Regions from separate parts of the Homo sapiens genome. Here region 2 is linked to region 1. The links come from fine-mapping of genetic effects on gene expression. A gene starts in region 1. The other region holds a variant in brackets. All regions are shown on one strand. Distances are between the middles of the regions.

Region 1 (8,418 bases):
CAGTGTCTTTGTTGCAACAGTTTCATCCAAGTCCTGGGTATATAAATAAAATAAAATTTTATTTTTTAGCAAAAAAAACCTTTTGCTGTTATTTAAAAATATTCTTGCTGTTTTCCAACCATCAGAGGAGACATGCACTTTTCATTGCTGTTAACAGATCTTTTTTTATTGAAGAAAAATACAATTATGATAACTTCCATAGATTATTTCATTGAATTTCACGTAATTCTATCAAGACCATTGTGAAGTAGATGTGCTCTGCGGATGAGAAACTGAAGCTCAGGCTTTAAACAACTTGCCAAACACAGTTACTAAGAAACAAAACTATTAACCATATCGTATCACCTCAATCATCCTTTTACTTTCCTTTGAAAGTAAAAAACTCACTCTCTTTTGAAAATCCCATCCAGGCTCTACCTGGACAAAAGTGCCTAGCTGCCTCTCTTTCCATAGTGAGCTCTGAATAAGTAGCCTTTGATTAATCCTATAGGTGGTCTCTATTCTTTCGATAATACAGCCTCATAAGAAGAAAAATTGGTGATTTAGCAATTATTGCCTGAATAAATTAAAGTGTTTTATTTAATACTTTAACATTATGAAGAGGGCAATATATGAATTAATATGTAAATAAAATAAAATGACTTTAGACATAATATGAAAAAAAACAGTTTTACATGTTCCAATTTCTCCCTATATGTTTTCCCATCCATTGTGCATTTTACTGTTGTCCCTAAGGGTTTGAACATTTGATTTATATCACCTCTCTGGTCCCTCTGAGTCTATCCACAGACCCCAGGTTATAATAATATAAGCTTGACTTCCTTCAACTCCACCCGGTTGGGGGCAAGGGTAAGGCATGGTACCTGCAGCCTGACTGCTGTTTTGTTTTGTTTTGTGACAGGGTCTTGCTGTGTCGCCCAAGCTGGAGTGCAGTGGTGTCAATCATGGCTCACTGCAGCCTCAAACTTCTGGGCTCAAGGGATCCTCCTGCCTCAGCCTCCTAAGTAGGTTGTTGGGACTGCAGGTGCATACCATAACACCTAATTTTTAAATTTTTAATACAAATGGGGTTTGATTTTTAAAGTTTAAAATTTTTTTGTACAAACAGGGTCTTGCTTTGTTGCCCAGGCTGGTCTGGAACTCTTGGCTTGAAGTGATCTTCCCACCTTGGGCTCCAAACTCAGGTGTGAGTCACTGCACCCAGCCAAGGAGCCTGACTCTTCACAGTGCACTCCTCATCTCATTGGGACATTGGTTGGGCTAGCAGGGAATAACTGTTCTTACTTGGAAAGTACTCCTCTCTGTCAGGCATGTGGCAAGGTCTTCCATATGTGATCTCCTTAACCCACAAACAACCCCACCAGGAGGGTTATATTATCACCACCAATTTACAGATGGGGAAATTCAGGCTTTGAGAGATTAAGGACCTCAGTCAGATTCATAAGCCCAAACTATCTGGGCTCTTAGCCCCACATGCTCCTGCCTCAGTGGGCTACACCTTGGTGAGATGCCTATGTTTCGGTCCACTGGTCCACTCCTGAAGACCAAGGCACAGGTTTAGAGAGACGTACCAGCGGCTAAAGGTACTTCTGCATCCAAGAACTAGAGGTGTCCCGTGTCCCCTTTACAACATTGTTGGCCTCCCTCTGGGCCTTGTACCTTATGTTTATTGCCTCATTTAATCCAGGTAAGGAGTCTTTAGGATTGGTGGCATGTATTCTTTTTATAGACAAGGAAGATGATGCTCAGGAGTTTGGATAACCTGCCCAAGGTCACGCAGTGGAGGAGAGGACTAGAAGGTAAATCAATGGACCTTTCACTACCTTCCCCTTCTCTGGGCTGTAGCAGTGAGTTAACTGGCTCAGACTTGCCCAGCGGAATGCCCTTCAGGACACACTGAGTACTGTAGTAAGAGCTGCATATGCGCTCAGGGAGAATGTGGATAGACGCTGTTTGTGATTCACGGGTAAAGGGCCTTCTCCCAGAGGCAGCAGAGGCAGATCCTGTCTCTGGTGTGCCCTGGCCCCCGACTTGGAGGCCTCCTGGGCCAGGCCAAGACCTTCCCCGGCAGCGATGGTCTCCAGCCACACTCAACTGCCCTGAAGGGACATTTCCTGCTTATTCCCTTGCCCGGCTGTGTCCTCCACCCGGAAGGCCTGTGCCTTCTTCGCCTGCATGTCCTACCCTGAGGAGGCTCCCTTGGTCTTTCATCGCTCTCCCTATGGGTCTTCACGCCTTCCCGAACCACCGCGCCCAAGCAGGAGCACGTTCTCGGCCCTCTTCACAGGGCGCTCCTCCTCACAGGGGTGCCCGGGATTTTTATTCTGTGCCTTCCTGGTGGCTCCTACAAGTCTGGAAGGGCAGGAGGCGCATCTCACTCCTCTGGGTCCCCTCCCCTAGCGCCTGGCGGGAGCCCAGGCTGCATTTGTGGAATTCATGACTTTTTCTCTCCTGCTCAAGCTGAACACATTGCTGGCTCCTGCTCGGGTGGAGCCCGGCTAATTAGAGTGAGGGGCTCCCCGTAGGGCGAAGGGGTGCGCTGTCAGATGTGGCATTCCCGTTTTACGGAGACACACGGTGTCTTACACGCCAGGGAGAGGTCTGAGACGCAAAGAGCCGTCGAGCGGGCTGCGGGATTGCTTCGCTGTCACCTCCGCCTGCAGCCACCCTTCCGCACGCACTTGTGTGTGCACCCAGGCCAACATGGAAGGCGCCATCCTAACTTCTGCCGTGAGCAGGTGGGAGGGAAGAGAGACGAGAGGTATTCCATTGGTTGTCTGGGAAAATGAATTGCACCTTCCCCTCCCTTGCGGAGGATCAACTTTTCCCACCCCCTCGGGTGGGCACTCGCATCCTGGGGCCGGAGCCTGAACCCGGGAGCCAAGGGGCCCCAGTTCCAGGGACGTGAAGCTGAGCGTACAGCGGGCGCTCCCAGACACTGGGGAAAGTGCTTTACGATGTCCCGAGTCCCTCCAGTCTCGCCAGCGGGGCGAGCGTGAGGGTGCCCCGACCGACCAGCGGCCCCGGGTGCAGGGTGGCGGGCCCGGCGGCGCGCGTCCCCCTCCCCCTCCTGGCGGCCCGCACGTGTCGCCCGCGCCGCGCCCCCACGGGTTACGCGCGGGTCCCGCAGCGCCGCGGCCGAGCCGGGCTGCCCGGCCCGCGGACACAGCGCCGGCCGCCGCATCCCGTGCGGGGCCGCGGCGCGATGCTGCGCTGGAATGAGGAAGCGCGGCGGCGAGGGGAGGGCCCGGGCGCGGTGCGCGCGGGGGTGGCGGCGGCGCGCCGAGCGGGCCCGGCGCGGGCGAGCGGGCTGCAGCCGGCGGCGGCGCCAGCAGGTACGGCCCGCACCCGCCGCCGCCCCGGCGGCCTTTGGGGGCTGAGCCGGAGCCCGGCGCGATTGCAAAGTTTTCGTGCGCGGCCCCTCTGGCCCGGAGTTGCGGCTGAGACGCGCGCCGCGCGAGCCGGGGGACTCGGCGACGGGGCGGGGACGGGACGACGCACCCTCTCCGTGTCCCGCTCTGCGCCCTTCTGCGCGCCCCGCTCCCTGTACCGGAGCAGCGATCCGGGAGGCGGCCGAGAGGTGCGCGCGGGGCCGAGCCGGCTGCGGGGCAGGTCGAGCAGGGACCGCCAGCGTGCGTCACCCCAAAGTTTGCGGGGTGGCAGGGCGCGCGCTCTGGCCACCCGCCGCTCTGGGCGGCAGCTGGTGGCAACGCAAGGGCGCGGCGGGGGCGGCCGGCGCGGAGGGGGCCAGGTACGGGGCCCGCGGGCGGCGCTGTGCGCGCGGGGCAGCCGGTCGGCCGGGAGCGCGAAAGCCTGGTCTGAGCCGGCTGGGGGCGGGGAGTGTGGCGGAGAAATGGGGAACAATGCGAGTGAGCAACTTCAGGAAGTCATTGTGAAAGAAAGCTGGGAAGAGCTCCGCGGCCAAGTTAGCAGGACACTCTAACAAGTGACTGCGCGGCCCGCGCCCGGGGCGGTGACTGCGGCAAGCCCCCTGGGTCCCCGCGCGGCGCATCCCAGCCTGGGCGGGACGCTCGGCCGCGGCGAGGCGGGCAAGCCTGGCAGGGCAGAGGGAGCCCCGGCTCCGAGGTTGCTCTTCGCACCCGAGGATCAGTCTTGGCCCCAAAGCGCGACGCACAAATCCACGTGAGTGTTTTCAAATTGAATTTCAATAGGAAAACTTGGGGTAACTGGTGAATTTAAAAAAAAAAAAACACAGTAAAGAAAAGCGGTAAGGTTGGTAGACCCTGGTGTCGCTCAGGTCCGCCTCTCTTTTCTGAGGACAGTGAGAGAGTTCACTTCTGTCAAGCGTCTGTTGCTCTGCACTGTGCCAGCAGGTGCAGGACCAGGCCGACATGGGACACTTCTGAGCAGCCCCGCTGTCACCAGGAGAGGAGTTCTAGCTCCCAACCATATTTAAATTTATGTAGACCTACATATACCCACGGAAGTCAGCCTTTATAAAGTCGTGTGTAAAGAGTTTTCCTTATATTTGAGCCGGGAGCTTTCTTTTTATACTATAAATATGATGAGATCGAGTCTGAACTTAATTTCTGCAAGAGAGGAATTATCCCGGCTTTGAAAAGTTAGTCCTTTTGCTGACCGCAGGTTTGACGCTCAAGTCACCAAACCTTCTCAGGAAAACCCTTAGTAATATTAAGGCATCAGGTTACTTGCGGTTATATTTGAAATGTATTTTAAATATTTGTCAAGCATCGCTGCTGATGCCTAAGGAACCTCGTGAGGGCTTGTTTTTCCTTCTAATTTGGAGGCATCTAATGACCGAAAACCGTAGCGATTCCATAGGGTCTGACCAGGCACAGCTTTCAAATGCAGCTTCCCTCTCTCTAGGGACTGCAGCCCACCCAGACTGAATTTCAATGCGGTGCGCTTTGCTTAGGTTACCCACTCACAATTTCCCACTGCGCCGCAGGCAGTATATTTCAGCTTTGAGATACCTTGTTTTAAAATTCCAGACAAAATGGTGTTGAGGAAATGTCTCCTTACTAGTCCCATCAACTTCTGTTAAAAGAGGAAAATTTATGGAATTTGAAAATACTGCGTATGATATTTAAACTTTCATAGACATTCAAATGCTTTTAAGGCCAGGTTCAATTTGGTTATGAGTCGAGGGGTGGGGGGGACCCACATAGAAATGTCCTGGGTCCTCTTGAGTTTATTTCTTTGTTTGAAGATGTTTGTTCAATGAGTTTTATTGTACTCATCTTTTATATGGAATTTTAAAAAGTAACAATTTCAGTATTATTTATATTAGAATGTGTCAGAATTATTTCCGTGACAAATCAGATCATTTGGGCTATGGCTTAAAATGTACACGAGGCAAATATTCATGACAAGAAGATTCACCTTCTTACGCTGGCATCTTGTAAAATGCAGAACAAGTTAAAGAAATAATGTGTACACATACAAATAATGATGTCACATTAAAAATACTACACTATTCTTGCTTGATGGAATGTATCTGATTTCCAATTTCACCATGAACATATTTCATACATTTTTTACATGAAAAAAAACGTGACTCTTAAGTCTCACAGTCAATCAGAGCTGGTGACCAGAACATTTTATTGAACTAAATGGTCATGTTTTCTTCCCCTTTTGTTTCACGGTGAGAGTTGAAGGAAGGAGTTTAGAAACTCTCCAGTACTTGTTTAATTCATCAGTGTTCTAATTAGAGTGGTACCTCTTGGAAAACTACACACCCCCCTAATGCAGAAACATCATAGCAATAATCACCCACCCTCAGGGTCTCCAGGAGACCACAAGGGCTGCAGATAAAAGTCTGGATGTGTTAGGTTTGACCCTTTCGAAGAGTTTTACACAGGCTCCTAAAGAGAAGATCAGCTGTGGCCGTTTGTAGCCATTTCCTTTGTCGAAAAACTAAGATCGCAGTGAATGTATTAGCCAAGAGGTCTAAAGCCCTGTTGTACTGCAGGCCACTGTCTTCCTTGTTTGACTAGAGACTTGGAGTTTGAGAACAGTGGTTCTTTGGTTTGGATACATTTTTTGTTCTTGATTTGGATGTGTGTGTTTCATGCGTGGTTAATATAGCATATTTTCAATATAAATGTCAAAAATTTTGAAATAGGAAAGAACTCTCTATATATTAATGTACTTATACACACACTTCAAGATTATGCATTTATTAACAGATACATGAAATAAATTCCATGTGCATATGCACATATGCACACAGAGCGTGCACACACACAGCATGCACACAGCGTGGAGTGAGAGGCATGGGGCAGTGTGGAAGAGTTTTAACATCAAACAGACCTGAAATGAGTATTAAAGGCCCCCTTTATTTTTAAACTTTTACTAAAACAAGATGGATTTCCCTATGTTATATAATGGTGAATTTTAGGCATAAATAACGTTTTTTGAGTGTTGCATAATTGTACGTATTAATGTAATGTAACTGTGGTTAACGAAGAATTCATCAAGGATATCACTGTTTTGTGGCATTTTTTTTTTCCTCCTCTAATCTTTGGACTTGTGAAATAATTTCACTATGAAATAAATGTTGGTTCTTGTCATATTCTAAGGGAGATTGATGTAAGTGGCTCCACTCCAGCTTACAGAAGGTAAACCACGACCTTTTTGCGTTCTCTGAAAACGCTTGTCTTCCGATGCCTCTGTTTCTAAGACTGACAAGCACTCTGGGGGCACTGTGACGCCTGCTTCTAGCGGCAGAGTTGCTGCAGCTCCTGTCCTGGCTGTGAACATTGTTCTCTCTCTGGTGTCTCTATGTTCATAACTACAGAGACTTCAGCTCTATTCCATTTCATATTTGTGCTGAATAATCATTCCATTTTATGGGAGAAAACACAAGATGTAAAAGCAACAAGTGACCCATCCTTTGAAGCTTACAAGAAGAGAAACATTAATCTATTTCACGTCTTGAAAACAGATCAGTTTTATTTTGCTCAAAAAGGGCACATGTACATTTTTGATCTAGGTCTTAGAAACGTAGAGTTTCAGAGGATCAGCATTATACACACTGTCACACACACACACACTTAAAATTCAGATGAGGAACAAGATAGGAATGAGGTTTTGTTAGGGACGCAGAGCACCTAAAACCAAAGGATATCGACAGTAACAAAGCTGTTTTTACTGTAGTGCTGACTGAACACTCATGCTGGTGTCTTCATGTGGACCATGGCTTTCTTGTATTTCTTTGCAGTTTAATAAATGACTTCATATCTCAGGTTACCTTTCCACATCTCCTGGAATATATGTTTATGTCCTTAAAGTTTCAGTGTCGTCACTTTAGTAGCTTTAGTTTGAGTTTTTAAATGTTTGGTAATATTCCAACAAATATTTTTTAAGACATTATGAAACCTTATGAAGTGCCATATATTACAAGTGAGATAAAACAGCAAGCAAAAGAAGGTTTGCAGAAGGTTTTTAAGTGGCGAAGTGCGGGCCTGCCCATTTTGGTGTCTCCTTGGTGGTTACTCCTGAGAAGGGCCTGGAGGAAGAGCAACTGAGGCCTAATCTACAGGCAACTGCCAAATTGTTTCAGTTGACGTTTTTCCCTCTCATGTTTGACTATAATAAATAGGTAGTTGCCAGTGGAGCCTTCAGCCAACCACCTGGTAATAAACTGTTAAAAATGGTGCAAACCCTAGGTCACAGGTGTGGGGGCCATTTGTCTTGCCTGTTAACAGGCCTGGCCTTAATTCTTTTCTCCCATGGCCATTTCTGCCTTTGGGGAACTCACAATTCCTGTTGACTAAAAGAGCACCCTTTTCCACCACAAGCCTGACAAATCAGACGTCCACATAATTTCTGAACTCGTTTTGGTTAGGACAGGAAGCACAGGCTCCCTTCCTGTCTGTGTTTTCCTAAGAGAAAACGGTCTTCCCTCCTTTTTTGCATATTTGGCAAGTGGTTCCACCTTTCTCTGCACCCTGGTGGAGTGTGAAGGCAGCAGAGGAACCTTTTGGAGGAGGAAGAGGACACAGAGGCCCTGTAGCCAGGCACCAAGATCCCTCCCAGGTGGCTGGGTCTGAGGGGAACTCCGAGCAGCCCTAGGTCCTCAAAGTCTGGATTTGTGTGGAAAAGGCAGCTCTCACTTGGCCTTGGCGAGGCCTCGGTTGGTTGGTGAGTGCCACACGGTTTCTTTGTGTGCTTGCATGGATTGGAATAGCCATTGTGTTCTTCCGTCTTCCCTGCTGGTGTTTCCACAGTGGGTGGCCTGAGCCCAGAGCAGCTCCCCATATCCCTGTGCAGGCCACCTGTCTCGGGTGATGGAGAGCATCATTATGCTCCGTCTGAACGCTCTGCTTTCGGATGGCCCCATGCTCCACCTCCTGATAGCTCGTGGCGCGGGGCCACGGCTTAACAAATGGCTGAAAATGGGTCCTAATTAGTGGAAAAGTGCTTTCTTCATAT
Region 2 (8,471 bases), 62 kb before region 1:
AGTGGAATTTTCTTTGAGCAAGCATGTATTTCAGCACCTAAGGAAATATTTTTTTCAATTAAAAGTAAGTTTTATAGAGAAAAGTCAAAGGTGTCGACAGTTTCAAATGTAGTAACCACAAAATGCATATTTGAAGAGATGTTATACAATTTTATTTTTAAGAGACCAGTAAGTCTATATTTTTAAATGTTCTGTAAAAAAGCAAATTGTTAGAGTCTATGAGGAACATTTTAGAAAGTTTGGAAACAAACTAAACAAATTATCAATAACACTGACATTAGTAAAATTTTAAAGACACCTTTTGTCCTATACAGTCTCATAATTTGATATGATTAACTTATACATTTGACTTTGAATCAGACCTACCAAACTTTGAGGAAATAGTGGTTCCAGGCTTGAATAAAAAAGGTCCCATATATTTTGTAAAGTTAGTGTATTCTTGGTTTCCAAACAAAATATAAAGTCCATGCAAATAAAAAAGCAAAAATTTATAGATCCATGTTACTTATGAATATAGAAGCAAAAATGTTAAATAAAATATAACGAACTAAATATAATAGTGTGTTTAAAATATTGTCACACAAGAATGCCCACTTTCACCACTTCTATTCAATATAATACTAGAAGTCCTAGCCAGAGCAATCAGTCAACAGAAAGCAACAAAAGGCATCCAAATTGGGAAAGATCAATGTACACAAATCAGTAGCACTGCTGTAACCAACAGCAACCAAGCTAAGAATCAAATCAAGAACTCAATCCCTTTTACAATAGCTGCAAAAAATAAATAAATTAATTAATTTAATTAAATTAAATACTTTGGAGTATACTTAACCAAGCAGGTGAAGGGTCTCTACAAAGAGAACTACAAAACCCTGCTTAAAGAAATCGCAGATGACACAAACAAGTGAAAACACAGCCCATGCTCATGGATAGAGAGAATCAATATTGTGGAAATGACCACACTGCCCAAAGCAATCTACAGATTCAATGCAACGCCCATCAAAATACCATCATCATTCTTTGCAAAACTAGAAAAAAATTACTAAAATTCATATGGAACCAAAAAAGAACTCACATAGTCAAAGCAATACTAAGCAAAAAGAACAAATCTGGAGGCATCACATTACTGGATTTCAAATTATATTACGAGGCTACCATTACCAAAACAGCATGGTACTGATATAAAAATAGGAACTTAGACCAATGGAGCAGAATAGAGAACCCAGAAATAAACAGAGTAGAGAACCCAGAAATAAACAAAATACTGATCTTTAATGAAGTATACAAACACATAAATTGGGGAAAGGACACCCTATTAAATAAATGGTGCTGGGAAACTGGTAAGCCACATATAGAAGAATGAAACTGGATTGCCATCTCTCACCCTATACAAAAATCAACTCAAGATTGAGCAAAGAGTTAAATTTAAGACTTGAAACCACAAAAATTCTAGAAGATAACATTGGGAAAACTCTTCTGGACATTGGCTTAGGCAAAGAATTCATGACTAAGACTCCAAAAGCAAATGCCAAAAAATTAATAAATAAATGTGGCCTAATTAAACTAAAGAGCTTCCGTACAGCAAAAGAAACAATCAGCAGAGTAAACACATAATCCAGAGTGGGAGAAAATATTCACAAAGTATGCCTCCAACAAAGGACTAGTATCCAGAATCTACAAAGAACTCAAACAAATCAGCAAGAAAAAAACAAATAATTTCATCAGAAAGTGGGCAAAGGACATGAATAGACAATTCTCAAAAGAGGATATACAAACAGCCCACAAACACATGAAAAAATGCTTAACATCACTAATCATCAAACAAATGCAAATTAAAACCACAATGAGACACCACCTTACTCCTGCAAGAATAGTCATAATTAAAAAGTCAAAAAACAATAGATGTTGGCTTGGATGTGGTGAAAAGGCAACACTTTTATATTGCTGGAGGGAATGTAAATTAGTACAACCTCTATGGAAAACAGTATGAAGATTCCTTAAAGAACTAAAAGTAGAACTACCATTCAATCCAGCAATCCCACAACTGGGTAGCTACTCAATGGAAATGAAGCCATTATGTGAAAAACAAACATGCACATTCATGTTTGTGGCAGCACAACTCACAATTGCAAGGATATTGTACCAATCTAAGTGCCCATTGACCAGCTAGTGGATTAAAAAAAATGTGGTATATTGACACCATGGAATACTATTCAGACTACTCAGCCATAAAAAAAAGGTACAAAATAATGTCTTTTTCAGCAACTTGGATGGAACTGGAGGCCATTACTCTAAGTGAGTAACTTAGGAATTAAAAACCAGATACCACATGTTCTCACTTGTAAGTGGAAGATAAGCTATGAGGATGCAAAGACATACAGAGCAATACAATGGACTTTGAGGACTTGGGACATGGGGAGGATGGGAGGTGGTTGAGGAATAAAATACTACATATTGGCTACAGTGTACACTGCTCAGGTGACAGGTGCACTAAAATCTTAGAACTCACCACTAAAGAACTCATCCATGTAACCAAAAACCACCTGTACCCCAAAAACTATTTAAATAAAAATAAATAAATAAAATATTATCATTAAAATCCCAGGAGTACAGGTATGATTTAATATCAGAAAATTTATAATGCAATCTGCAATCTTAATATACTAAGAAAAAAATATAATTATTTCAATAAAATGGAGAAAAATAGCCTTGAGATAGAACAGAGCTTCATTAATTTTATTAAAAAAAACAATTTAGAGTATACATCTACTTGATGAAGGAAATGTGGATGTATTTTATTTAAATTGGCAACAGAAAATAATAGCCATAACCATCATTACCATTTAACCTGGTTTTGGTGTAGGACTTGGAGAGAAGACATAATGGTATGCTTATTTTTGTATAACATGATTACTTTATGCAGGAATTGCAACAGAATTATCAAAGAAACTATTAAGACTAAAAATAGTATTTGCCAACTTTTCTGTAGACAAACTTAATCTGAAAAATTCAATAGTGTTTCTAAACACTAGCAAAAACCAATTACTTATACAGTCAATTGTCATTATTCATAGTAGTTCTGTTCAATAAAAGGAAGGAAGGAAGGAAGGGAAGGAAGGAAGGAAGGAAGGAAAGAAGGAAGGAAGGAAGGAAAGAAGGAAGGAAGGAAGGAAAAAAGAAAGAAAGAAAGAGAGAGAGAAAGAAGGAAAGAAAGAAAGAAAGAAAGAAAAAAAGAAGGAAAGAAAGAAAGAGAGGAAGGAAGGGAGGAGGAGAGAAAGAGGAAGGAAGGGAGGAGGAGAGAAAGGGAGAAAGAGAGAAAGAGGGGGAGGAAGGGAGAAAGAATGAAAGAACAAAAGGAAAGGAAAGGAGAAAGAAAGAGGGAAAGAAAGAGATTTACATAAACACAGAAATATTACACCACACTACAAATACTACAAATCCATGAAGGGTAAGCAAAATAATAGAAACCTAGACCAATGGCACAGAATAGAGTTCAGAGGGAGACCAACGTGTGTATGGTCAATAAAGGTAGTATACAAAAATAAGTGGGAGATTTTTTAGAAGATAGTTTTGGGAAAACTGATCCATGACATAAAGAAAAATAAACTAGCTCTCTAAAATGAGTGCTTTAGGTCAATGTTACCCGATAGAAATATAAAGTGAGAGGTAGATGTAACTGTAAATTTTCTAATTGTCATATTTTAAAAAGTAAAAAGAAACAGGTATACTAACTTTAGTAATATATTTTATTTAACCCAATGTGTCCAAAATATTATTATTTAAACATGTAATCAATATTTTAAAACTTATTGATACATTTTACCTCTTTTTATTCTAAGGCTTCAAAATATGGTGTGTATTTTACACTTACAACCCATTTTGATCCATCTCTAAATCTCACTGGAAACAATTTATCTATGTTAGATTTCAGAAAATTTACAGTTGAAATTTACAGTTGATTCATGTATCCAAGCTGTTCTAAACATACTTAATAAATTTTCAACAATTAAATTGTGCATGAAATAAAAATCACTTTTGTTTAATGTTTGAATCCACATTGGTAAAATTAATCCACTTATTTTTTAAAAATCGATTTAACTTGAAGAAAAAGCATATTGGTACCAATAGTATGTCTGTCCAAGTTAAATAATTTCATTAACTCATGTATCAGTAAGCATCATTAACATAAAATCAAAGAGGTTATTGTACCATAATTATCCATATCAACAAAGCATACTCCAAACTTTTCCTGTATGCTTTGCAGCCATTTTACATTATGCTGTAGATTGCAATTCTACATTCATAATACCTTTAACAGAAGTTAAAAGCTTCATGAAACTAAACAAAAGTATTTTCAATACTTACATACTGTGGAATGAAGCAATAAAGGAAATATCAGTCTCTCATTTTAAAATTCTAGTGAATTCAGATTTT[C/T]GACCTAACATAGCTGGAATACTCTGTTGTGATAGAAATTGACTTTTTCATATCTATCTGAAATCCTTCTTTGAAAAATTCAAAAGATTCAACAGTATTTATATCACAAGTTTAAATTTTTAGATTGTGAATTGATAGTATTTCTACATAAATTTGGTAGTTTTTTGAGACAAAATATATTCAAAGCATTAGTTGAGTAGCATCTCATATCACAAGATGCATCCAGAGGTACTGACAGTTTTTAAAATGTTGAATCAGTTAATCTTTGATATTGTGAGAAAGGTATTGCACTTTATGGGCAAATTTTCTGTGGCTTAGCTACAGGTCTTTTGCTTACAGTAAAATATCTTTTTTAGTCTTTTTCTTACAACTTTCTAACAAATTTTTCATAAATTAATCATGATTTTTGCCGTCTTTCTGACTAAAAATGATTTTCCCTGTTCAATAATTTAATTCAGTTTATAGCTAGCCAAAGTTATAAGCCCAGTTTCTGATGAAAATCATTTAAAAGTTTTGTGTTGATCATTTAATTCTGATTTCAGTTAATTATTGTCAATGCTTTTTTGACTATTGAGAGGAAGCATCTTATTAAATTCACTATGTATGTGCTGAAAACATCTCTTAATATTATCTACCTTATTATCTTTAAAACTTGCTTTTTTTACTGATACAACAATTTGTAATTGTTATTTATTATGAAATTTGTGACATACTTTTTTCCAATCTTTGTCTTTTTAAAAATGTTTCCCATTGTATTACACACATCTGCATCTGCATTTGAATCTGTAGCAGTAGTGTGATTTTATTTTAAATGTAAAAATTTGTTAATATTATTTTTACACTGAAAAAAACAAACTATATCAAATAATAATATAATTTTTAATGTAATTACTGATTATAATTTACTTAGGCATCACTCTAAGTCTTGATGCTTTTGCAATATATTAAAATAAACAATCTACAATGTTACATCAGCACATAGAAAAAATCATTTGGACTAAAAAAATTGTTTTATGCCAATTATATTGGTAATGTTTATGTCTGCCAACAGAAATAATGCATGTGCCCAGCACATACACCACAATAAAGCAATATCTTACATGGTGCAATAGTTAAACTCAAAACAATACATTATGTATGATTTTACACTGATTAAGTTTTTAAGTTTAAAGTAATTAAAACCAAACAAAATTAAAATTTAGTTTCTTAGTTGTACTAGCTACCTTCAAGTGTTTGGTAGCTACATGTGACTCTTGGCTACTAAGTGAATAGCCCAGATTGAGCTGAATTAAAGATTTAAATGTAAAAGAAGAAACAACAAAGTCTGACTAAGAAAAATGTACAGCAGTATCTTAGTGATCTAGAAGGGTAACAAAAGCATAAACCTTAAGTAAAGAAAACTGCCAATGGAGCATACAAAAGCTAAATATTTCTGTTCAGTAGCAGGAACCGTGGACAAGACTTATAGGTAACAAAATTAGAAAGCAAGATAGAGTAAAGCATTTGGAGATTATGTGGAATGCACATCCTCTCTTGCATGGCTTGTGGAGGTATAGACTGACTTTAGTGATTGCAGAGAGCAATCTGGTACCATTAGTTAAATTAAGTATAATCATACCCCAGATATAACCCAGGAATTCTCAACAGCACGAGTATCAAGATGTTCCCTATAGCTTTCACTATGGCGGCACAAGAAAATATACAGTTGAATACCACAATGAAATTTATGCAAGAAGAATGGATCAGTAAAATGTGGTGGGTATTTGCAATGGAGCATTACTTAACAGTTAGAAGAAACAGATTAGATGTACATAGGCAGACACAGAGAAATCTTTAAAAATAGCACTTACTACGAAAAAGTAATAAAGAAAATGAGATTATAACATGTGTGTGATGCACCTGTTACCATGCACACAGTTAGCAATGCACATTTTGAAAGAACACCTCCAAAATACATGTTGAACACATGATGTTGATTGTCTACATGAGGAGAACAATGACAATGGGGTGGACTAATGGTTATAGTGTATCATAAACTTGGAAGTGTGATTAAATATTCAATTTTTGAGGTCCATGAAAATTGCTTTTAAAAACTGAATTCCATTTCTGGCATTATGGTAGAATGTCCTGAGATACTCTCCCATGGAACAAACAAAATACAATATAAAACATATTTTAAAATATATTTAATGTATTTCTCAAAATCAAATAAATAATTAAAAAAAGAATCCAATGACATAAGCAAGTACTTAAGCTGTCTTTTTCCCAGAAGCATCAGTTGAATCCTACTGAAGTTAACTTTCTGGTTTCATGTCTACACTTGGAGCACAAGGAACAAGAAATAAGCCTAGTACTTTCCCAAGTTGGGGCACCAAAGAGATGTCTACTTAAAGTCAAAAGACAGAAGGATAGGGCAATTTAGAAACAAAATTACCTCATTTAAGGACACAAAAGTAAAAGTTGCCTACCTTGACAATGACACTATGTAAAAGGATAAATATCTCTACTGAGATTTCATTGTTCCTAGATGACATTCACATGCATTTTCAAACTCAAATTCTGGCTATCTGTATTGCCTGAAAAATTTAAAGCCAGGAATTCAAGCTGTCTCAGATTAATAGTACCCATAATTTCCTAGAAGGAAACACAAATTCTTTCCAAGAAAACCCATTTCAATTCATTTCTCCCAGAATTTTCCCACAGATAAATGTCAAAGGAACATCAAAAGCAAAAGGAAATAGGGTATCATGAGTAACAACCAGTGATATGAAAATATGATTAGGCATGTTAGAAAATAAAAGTATATCAAACTTCTAAAAATTTCTTAAAGTATTTCAATTTGAAGTACAATAGAAAACAAATTATATATAGCTGAATAATTATTTATCTGATACTTAAATCTTAAGAAATTATTTAGACTATGCACATAAAGAAAATGAGATGCTAAATATAAAGAGAGGTTATTAAGAGACATGGAAAATAGATTATGATGGTTTAACATTCATTCAGAGTCTAGTAGGAGAGAAATAGGACAATATCTTTTGTGGTAATGGTTGAAAATATTCAAGAGCTGATTATTAGACGTTTCTCTTAACATTCAGGTAGCCCAGATAATCTCAAACAAAATAAATAAAATAAAATTCATACCTAGATACAAAGTGCTGATGTTTCAGAACACCAAAGACAAAGTAAAGATCTGAAAATTAGTCAAAGAAAAGACAAAAACCTGAAATTAAATGGCAATTCCACTGACAGCTGACTTTGCAACAGCAGTAATGGAAACCAGAAGACAATGGAATAATATCACGGAGGTGCTGGCAGAAAGATCTATCTAGAGTTGTACATCTAGTAAAACTCTAGAATACAGAGGAAAAATAGAAAATGTTCTCAGATAAACAAAAATGGATCTATAGACACCAACTGAAGAGAAATTCTAAAGGTGTTTTTTTAAATAAGAAATATGAACTCAGATGGAAAATCTAACCTGTAAGAAAAAATAATAAGTAAATACATTAGTAAATCTGATGGGTAAATCTAAATAACTATTGACTGTATGACAAAATAATAATAGAAATAATAACAACATTTAATTTTAGGTGTTAGAAACAAGCAAATCTTAAGTACAGACATGAATGTAATTTATTTAAAAAATAACTGAAATATATATAACCTGTGAAATTTAAATTACACTTCCAAATAACTCCTCTATTGAAGAATATATAACTTTTGGAACATTATTAAATTGTTAAATAAACATTACTTCAAAAACTACATATCAAAACACATAGGCACATCACACCCATCAAGATGGCCAATATCAAAAATAATAATAATAGCAAGTGTTGGTGAGGATGTGAAGATTTGGTACTCTTTTGCTGGTGGGAATGTCAAGTAGTATAGCCACTGTGAAAAACAATATGCCAGTTCTTCAAAAAAATTAAAAATAGAATTACCATATGATTTAGAAATCCTACTTCTGGGTTATACTCAAAAGAACTGAAAGTAGAATCTCAAAGAGATCTCTGTACATCCATGTC

The links. PIP is the estimated chance that this variant, and not a neighbour inherited with it, causes the effect.
Region 2: its variant is fine-mapped to the expression of IKZF1 in whole blood (INTERVAL, PIP above 0.99).

What each region holds. Positions count from the first base shown.
Region 1 is chr7:50,300,780-50,309,197 of GRCh38, forward strand. It overlaps IKZF1 (IKAROS family zinc finger 1), which reads left to right and starts at 3,937. Exons shown (of 8, transcript NM_006060.6): 1 at 3,937-4,143. RefSeq lists an enhancer at 1,894-2,395 and a silencer at 3,250-4,049.
Region 2 is chr7:50,239,076-50,247,546 of GRCh38, forward strand. No RefSeq gene overlaps it. Among named protein-coding and RNA genes, the nearest start is that of IKZF1, 61 kb to the right of the region's middle. The variant C/T (reference allele first, on the strand shown) is at 4,435.